Linked DNA regions of Homo sapiens. The protein of the gene in region 2 purifies or fractionates together with the protein of the main gene of each other region. This does not show direct contact. Each region holds a gene or a part of one and is shown on either strand. Other genes may lie near its edges.

What was found. The genes of interacting proteins can lie anywhere in the genome.
Region 1: the proteins of ADNP2 (region 2) and GDPGP1 purify together in Homo sapiens (affinity purification with mass spectrometry; one large-scale study listed by BioGRID and IntAct). This does not show direct contact.

The regions. Positions count from the first base shown.
Region 1 is NC_000015.10:90,237,209-90,240,708, reverse strand, and holds part of GDPGP1 (GDP-D-glucose phosphorylase 1), read right to left. Parts: intron 2,218-3,500; 5' UTR 2,161-2,217; intron 1-2,160. UniProt on the Homo sapiens protein: Specific and highly efficient GDP-D-glucose phosphorylase regulating the levels of GDP-D-glucose in cells.
Region 2 is NC_000018.10:80,115,762-80,119,261, reverse strand, and holds part of ADNP2 (activity-dependent neuroprotector homeobox protein 2), read right to left. Parts: intron 1,733-3,500; 5' UTR 1,720-1,732; coding exon 1,612-1,719; intron 1,596-1,611; exon of another isoform or gene 1,577-1,595; intron 1-1,576. UniProt on the Homo sapiens protein: May be involved in transcriptional regulation. May play a role in neuronal function; perhaps involved in protection of brain tissues from oxidative stress. May be involved in erythroid differentiation.

The DNA.
Region 1 (3,500 bases), on a different chromosome or scaffold from region 2:
CCTGGGCAGCTGGGGTTACAGGCAGGCACCACCATGCCCGGGTAATTTTTGTATTTTTAGTAGAGATGGTGTTTCACCATGTTGGCCAGGCTGGTCTTGAACTCCTGACATCGGGTGATCCCTTTGCCTTGGCCTCCCAAAGTGCTGGGATTACAGGCATGAACCAACATGCACAGCTTATTTATTTATTTTTATTTTTTTGAGACAGAGTCTCACTCTGTTGCCCAGGCTAGAGGGCAGTGGCGCGATCTTGGCTCACTGCAACCTCCACCTCCTGGGTTCAAGTGATTCTCATGCCTCAGCCTCCCAAGCAGCTGGAATTACAGGCACCCGCCACCAGGCCCGGCTAATTTTTGTATTTTTAGTAGAGGCAGGGTTTCACCACATTGGCCAGGCCGGTCTTGAACTCCTGACCTCCGGTGACCCTCCCCTCTCGGCTTCCCAAAGTGCTGGGATTACAGGCCTGAGCCACTGCACCTGGCCTATTTATTTATTTATCACTCTGTCACCCAGGCTGGAGTGCAATGGCGCTATCTTGGCTCACTGCAACCTCTACCTCCCAGGTTCAAGCGATTCTCTGGCCTCAGCCTCCCAAGTAGCTGGGATTATAGGAATGTGCCACCACAGCCAGCTAATTTTGTATTTTTGGTAGAGACAGGGTTTCACCATGTTGGTCTGGCTGGTCTTGAACTCCTGACCTCAGGTGATCCACCCACCTCGGCTTCCCAAAGTGCTGGGATTACAGGTGTGAGCCACTGCGCCCAGCCACGGCCTATTTTATTTTGAAACAGGTTCTCACTCTGTCACCCAGGCAGGAGTGCAGTGGTGCATACATGTCTCCCTGAAGCCTTGACCTCCCAGGCTCAAGGGATTCTTTCACCTCAGCATCCCAAGTATCTGGAACTACAGGCATGTGCCACCAGGCACTGCCGAGATCGCACCATTGCAGTCCAGCCTGGACAATAAGAGTGAAACTCTGTCTCAAAAAAATAGATAGATAGATAGATATGGTTTGGCTATGTCTCCACCCAAATTTCATCTTGTGGTTCCTATAATCCCCACTTGTTGTGGGAGGGGCCCGGTGGAAAGTAAATGAATCATGGGGGCGGTCACCTCCATGCTGTTCTCGTGATAGTGAGTTCTCCTGAGATCTGATGGTTTTATAAGAGGCTTTACCTCCCTCTTTGCTCTGCACATCTCCCTGCTGCTGCCATGTGAAGAAGGATGTGTTTGCTTCCCCTTCTGTCATGATTGTAAGTTTCCTGAGGCCTGTCCACCCTTGCAGAACTGTGAGTCAATAAAACCTCTTTCCTTTATAAATTACCCAGTCTTGGGTATTTCTTCACAGCAGTGTGAGAACAGACTAATACACACACACACACACACACACACACACACACACATTTTATGTCTCATATAGATCAACTATTTTTTCTTTCTAAAAATTATATATATCGAGTAAATTTTTTTAATGGAGAAACAATAAAGATAAAATATAACCCTTTGTTATAATGCCTAAGGAAAAATCACAATTTATGTTTAGCTTCATTTTCATACATAGATGGATCTTGACTTTTTAACCAATCTTCAACTGTTTATATAGGTTGTAGCTAGTTTCATTCTATTATACACAATGTGGCAATGAACATCCTATACACTCACACACTCATCATTGAACATGTCATGTTTTTATTTTCCTTTAAAATAAAATCCTGGTATACCACTGGGTCAGAGTAGGTCCATGGCTCAGGTTTTGGTTTTATTTTGTTTTGTTTTGTTTTTGGTAGAGACAGAGCCTTGCTATGCTGTTCAGGTGGTCTCAAATTCCCATGGCTCAGATTTTTTATACACACCATCAAACTGCCCTCCAGAAAATCATACCTGAGTTCCAGTGCATGAGAGTGCTCAGGGTTTCAAAGATGACCACTTCTTTTGTGGGAAAAGCTTTTCCATGTTCCATAGTGATTCCAATTGGTCATGCATAGAAACATTTGGGTGAGGATGGCACTGATGTGTGGGTAAGTGTCCAGGGCCAACCTTTCAAGGGGGAAATTAGTGCCTGTCTTCATCTTCCCCTGGCTGCCTGGAGCCCTGGACCCAGCACTGTCAGGGAGAGGGGTCTGCCACTGGCCCAGATAGGATGTCAAAAGGAGGCATTACCTTAGTAGAGTCACTTCAGTCCAAGTTTGGGTTCCTTCAGCTCTGCTGCTCCAGAAACTTCATGTTAATAAAACAGAAAGGAAACAAAACATATAAAAAATTACATATCAAAAGTCAAGCTAAGTTTAATGAGTATTGAGGCTTAGTTTGCAAGATGAAAACGTCCTGGAGATTTGCCGCACAACATCGTGAATGTGCTTAACACGACTATACACTTAGAAATGGTTCAGATGGTCAATTTTTTTTTTAAAGACAGAATCTCACTCTGTCAGCCAGGCTGCAGTGCAGTGGCACGATCTTGGCTCACTGCAACCTCCACCACCCAGGTTCAAGTGATTTTCATGCCTCAGCCTCCTGAGTAGCTGGGACTACAGGTGTGTGTCACCACGCCCGGCTAATGTTTGTATTTTTAGGAAAGACCAGGTTTCACCATGTTGGCCAGGCTGGTCTCGAACTCCTGACCTCAGGTGATCCACCTGCGTTGGCCTCCCAAAGTGCTGGGATTACAGGCGTGAGCCACCGCACCTGGCCAAAAATGTTTAAAAGTGAAGCTAATCCTTTGAGCTGGAGCTGCAAGGTAAAAGACAACAACAACAAAAAAGTGAAGCTAAGCATAATTTTGATGATCAAATGTAGTATCTTATTCTCACCTTACTGCAATGTCTGCCTCCCAGACTCAAGCAATCCATCCACCTCAGCCTCCCAAGTAGCTGGGACCACAGGCACTTGCACCAGGCCTGACTAATGTAGTATCTTATTCTAATAAAAGAGAATCTTATCTGACAGGCGAAAAAATTTAAAATGAGATAATAAAAATAATACAAAACCAAAAAAAGGAGAAAAAAAAGAGATAATCTTAGACATTTTTTCAAATAAGATATAAAGATGGCCAACAAGCACATTTGGGATGTTTAACGTCATTAATCAATAAGAAAAGGCAAATCAAAATCACAATGAGGGGCTGGGTGCGGTGGCTCACACCTGTAATCCCTGGACCAGCACATTGGGAGGCTGACGCAGGTGAATCACGAGGTCAAGATACCGAGACCATCCTGGCCAACATGGTGAAACCCTGTGTCTACTAAAAATACAAAAATTAGCTGGGCGTGGTGGTGGGCACACACCTGTAGTCCCAGCTACTTGGGAGGCTGAGGCAGGAGAATCACTTGAACCTGGGAGGTGGAGGTTGTGGTGAACTGAGGTGGTGCCACTGCATTCCAGCCTGGTGACAGAGCAAGACTCCATCTCAAAAAAAAAAAAAAAAAGGGAAAAAAAGAAAATTACAATAAAGTCCGGGCACGGTGGCTCACGCCTGTAATCCCAGCACTCTGGGGGGCCAA
Region 2 (3,500 bases):
TGGTTTCTGCTGCTTGAAAACAAAGAACTCTAATTGCTGTGGTGGATTAAGAATAAACGCACTTCACATGGAAAAAGGTTCTCACTATGCGGTTCAGTGAAAAAGAAACAACAGCTGGTGCAGTAGCTTATACAATTTGATTATATCCTTTTAAGAAAAAAAATGTGAATATATCCCGTTTTTAAAAATCTATAGATATATAACAACGTTAATTCTGGATATTTCAGGGTAATGGTTTACGCGTGAGTCTTACTGTCTTGTTTCTGTGTCTGTTTTCTCATTTTCCTATAAAAAACTTCTGTATTACTTGAATTTTCAAAAATTTCATTATAGGCCCAATTACAAATAAAATTTTCTCCCCAAAATAGTTTTACTAATTCAACAGTTAATCTAATTAACAGTTTAAGCCATTCAAATCTCTTAATTTTCCCTTGTGAAGTACCGTATCTCTGCATCAGTAAAGTCTTGGGAAAAAAAAGTAAACAGCCGTGAAGAACTTCAGAAGAGTAAACACATTCTCAGGCTAAGGAAGCAAAAGTTCACGAGCAATGTTCAGTTCCAGTCAAGTCAAAAACAAAGGACTCTAGGATGAAAAACTTTTGTTGTTACTGACATGTTACTTAAAAATAAAACAAATTTCCTAACAGAATTCCACCTTAAAAGATTGAATTGACCTCAAAAGGAGACTAAAGAGACATGACAACCAAATACATACCTGATCCTAGACTACATTTATTAATGAAGGGGAAAGCAAGGCTATAAATGATTAGACGAGACAAAAATGTCATTACCAATGACTACAAGGATATATAAGAACTTTTTTTTTTTTTGAGACAGAGTCTCACTCACTCTGTCACCCAGGCTGGAGTGCAGTGGTGCTATCTCGGCTCACTGCAACTTCTGCCACCCAGGTTCAAGCAATTCTTGTGTCTCAGCCTCCTGAGTAGCTGCAACTACAGGCGCCCGCCACCACACCCAGCTAATTTATGTATTTTCAGTAGAGACAGGGTTTCACCATGTTGTTGGCCAGGCTGGTCTCGAACTCCTGACCTCAAATGATCCATCCACCTCAGCCTCCCAAAGTGCTGAGATTACAGGCGTGAGCCACCATGCCCGGCCAGGATATACAACAACTTTTATTTAACATTGTTTAAAACTATATATGCCAACTATGTATTCTCAATGTTATAAGGACAGACAAAATTTTAGGAAAACTTTTCTGAGATCACATATACAACTACACAAATCAGGATTAAAAAAAACCCTATCATTTCATTTATGCATGCCCATTTGTTGATTGCTCTAACAATACTGGGAAATTAAGTTAGTTTTCTTTTGCTAAAATAACAAATCACATTTCCCTCAAACATCAAAAACAATTTTTTAGTAACTAATGACTAGAAAAATCCCCTCCTTAAAGTAGCTTAAAAACCTGAACAGCTTAAATAGCTCACTTTATGTCATAAAGACATAAATAAGTACTAATGAGGCTTTCACACAGCCATCTGAAGTATAACAGCAATTTCCATTTTGAGGAATCTTACCCACTCTTCAAAAACCCGAGTTCAAATCTCACCTCCAGATTCCAGTTGGCTACTTACGTCCTCTTACCTTCAGTAACTCCTTGCAGCTGTCAAGCCCAATATCCACAAGAATACCTTTCACCTTTTTTCGCACCTTTCTGATGTTGTCAAGATTTTCCACAGGAATTTGAAACATTTTTGAAATTTTCCTTAAAAGGAAAGAAAACAAAACTGTAATAAGTACATGTATATAATACACAAAAATACATTTTTTGACAGGGTTGGTAAAACACTAGGAATAGAGTATAATTTTCAACAAATTGTTGTAGAACGAGTGAACATTCATATGCAAATGAATGAGGTTGACCTCTTCCTTACACCATATACAAAAATTAACTCAAAAGTGGATCACACACCTGTATGTAAGACCTAAAACTATAAAACTCTTATAAGAAAACGTAAGCATAAACATTGATGACCTTAGATTCGGCAAGGAATTCCTAGATAGGACACCAAAAAGCACCAGTAATGAAAGAAAAAATAGGTATGGACTTCACCAAAATTAAAAATTTTTATGCTTCAAAGGACACCATCAAAAAAGCAAAAAACCCACAAAACGGGAGAAAATATTTGCAAACCATTATTCCTTTCTAATAAGGAACTTATATGCAGAATACAGATAACTCTTGTATCTCAATAATTAAAACACAGATAACCCAGTTTACAAATGGGCAAAGGATCATAGACACTTCTCCAAAGAAAAATGTCCACTAAGGTACATGAAAAGATGCTCAGGCAGGGAACAGTGGCTCACGCCTGTAATTCCAGCAGCTCAGGAGGCTGAGGTACACAGATCAGGCAGACTGTTTGAGCTCAGGAGTTGAAGACCAGCCAGGGCAACATGGTGAAACCCTGCCTCTACAAAAAATACAAAAATTAGCCAGGCATCCTGGTGCGCACCTGTAGTCCCAGCTATCCAGGAGGCTGAGGTGAGGGGATCACCCGAGCCCAGGAGGTCAAGGCTGCAGTGAGTCTGATCACGCCACTATATTCCAGCCTGAGCAACAGAGTGAGACCCTATCTTAAAACAAAACAAAAAAAAATGCTCAACATCATTAGCCATTTGGAGAAATGCAAATTAAAACCACAAAGAGATACTGTGCCCACCAGGATATCTATAAAGAAAAAAAAAAGGAAACGTGTTGGCAAGGACGTGGAGAAATTGGAACTCTCATACATTCCTAATAGTAATGTATACCAGTGCAGCCAGTCTTCATGTGTGCCTGAAAACAGTCTGGCTGTCCCACAAAAGATTAAAAATATAGGTAACATATGAACCAGCAATTCCACTCAAGAGAAAAGCATACATCCACCCAAAAACTTATATAAGGATGTTCATGACAACACTATTCAGTCACCAAAATGTGTAAACAAACCAAATGCCCCTGCATTGGGGCATTTGATAAATAAACTGATGACTGGATAAATAAAATATGACATATCCATACAATAGATTATTTGGCCATAAAAGAAATGAAATACATACATGCTACAATATGGACAAACTTTGGAAATATGCTAAGTAAAAGAAGCCAGACACAAGGACCACATATTGTATGATTCTATTTATGTGAAGTGTCCAGAACAGGCAAATCCATAGAAAGCACAACAGTGGGCCGAGTGCAGTGGCTCACACCTGTAATCCCAGCACTTTGGGAGGCCAAGGTGGGTGGATCACCTGAGGTCAGGAGTTCAAGACCAGCCTGGCCAATATGGTGAAGCCCCATCTCTACTAAAAATACAAAAAATTAGCTGGGCACCTGTAATCTCGGCTACTCGGGAGGCTGAGGCAAGAGAATTGCTTGACCCTGGGAGACAGAGGTTGCAGTGAGCCGAGGTCGCGCCACTGCACTCCACCCTGACCAGTAAGAGCAAAACTCCGTCCCCAGAAAAAAAAAGCACAACAGTGGCTGCCAG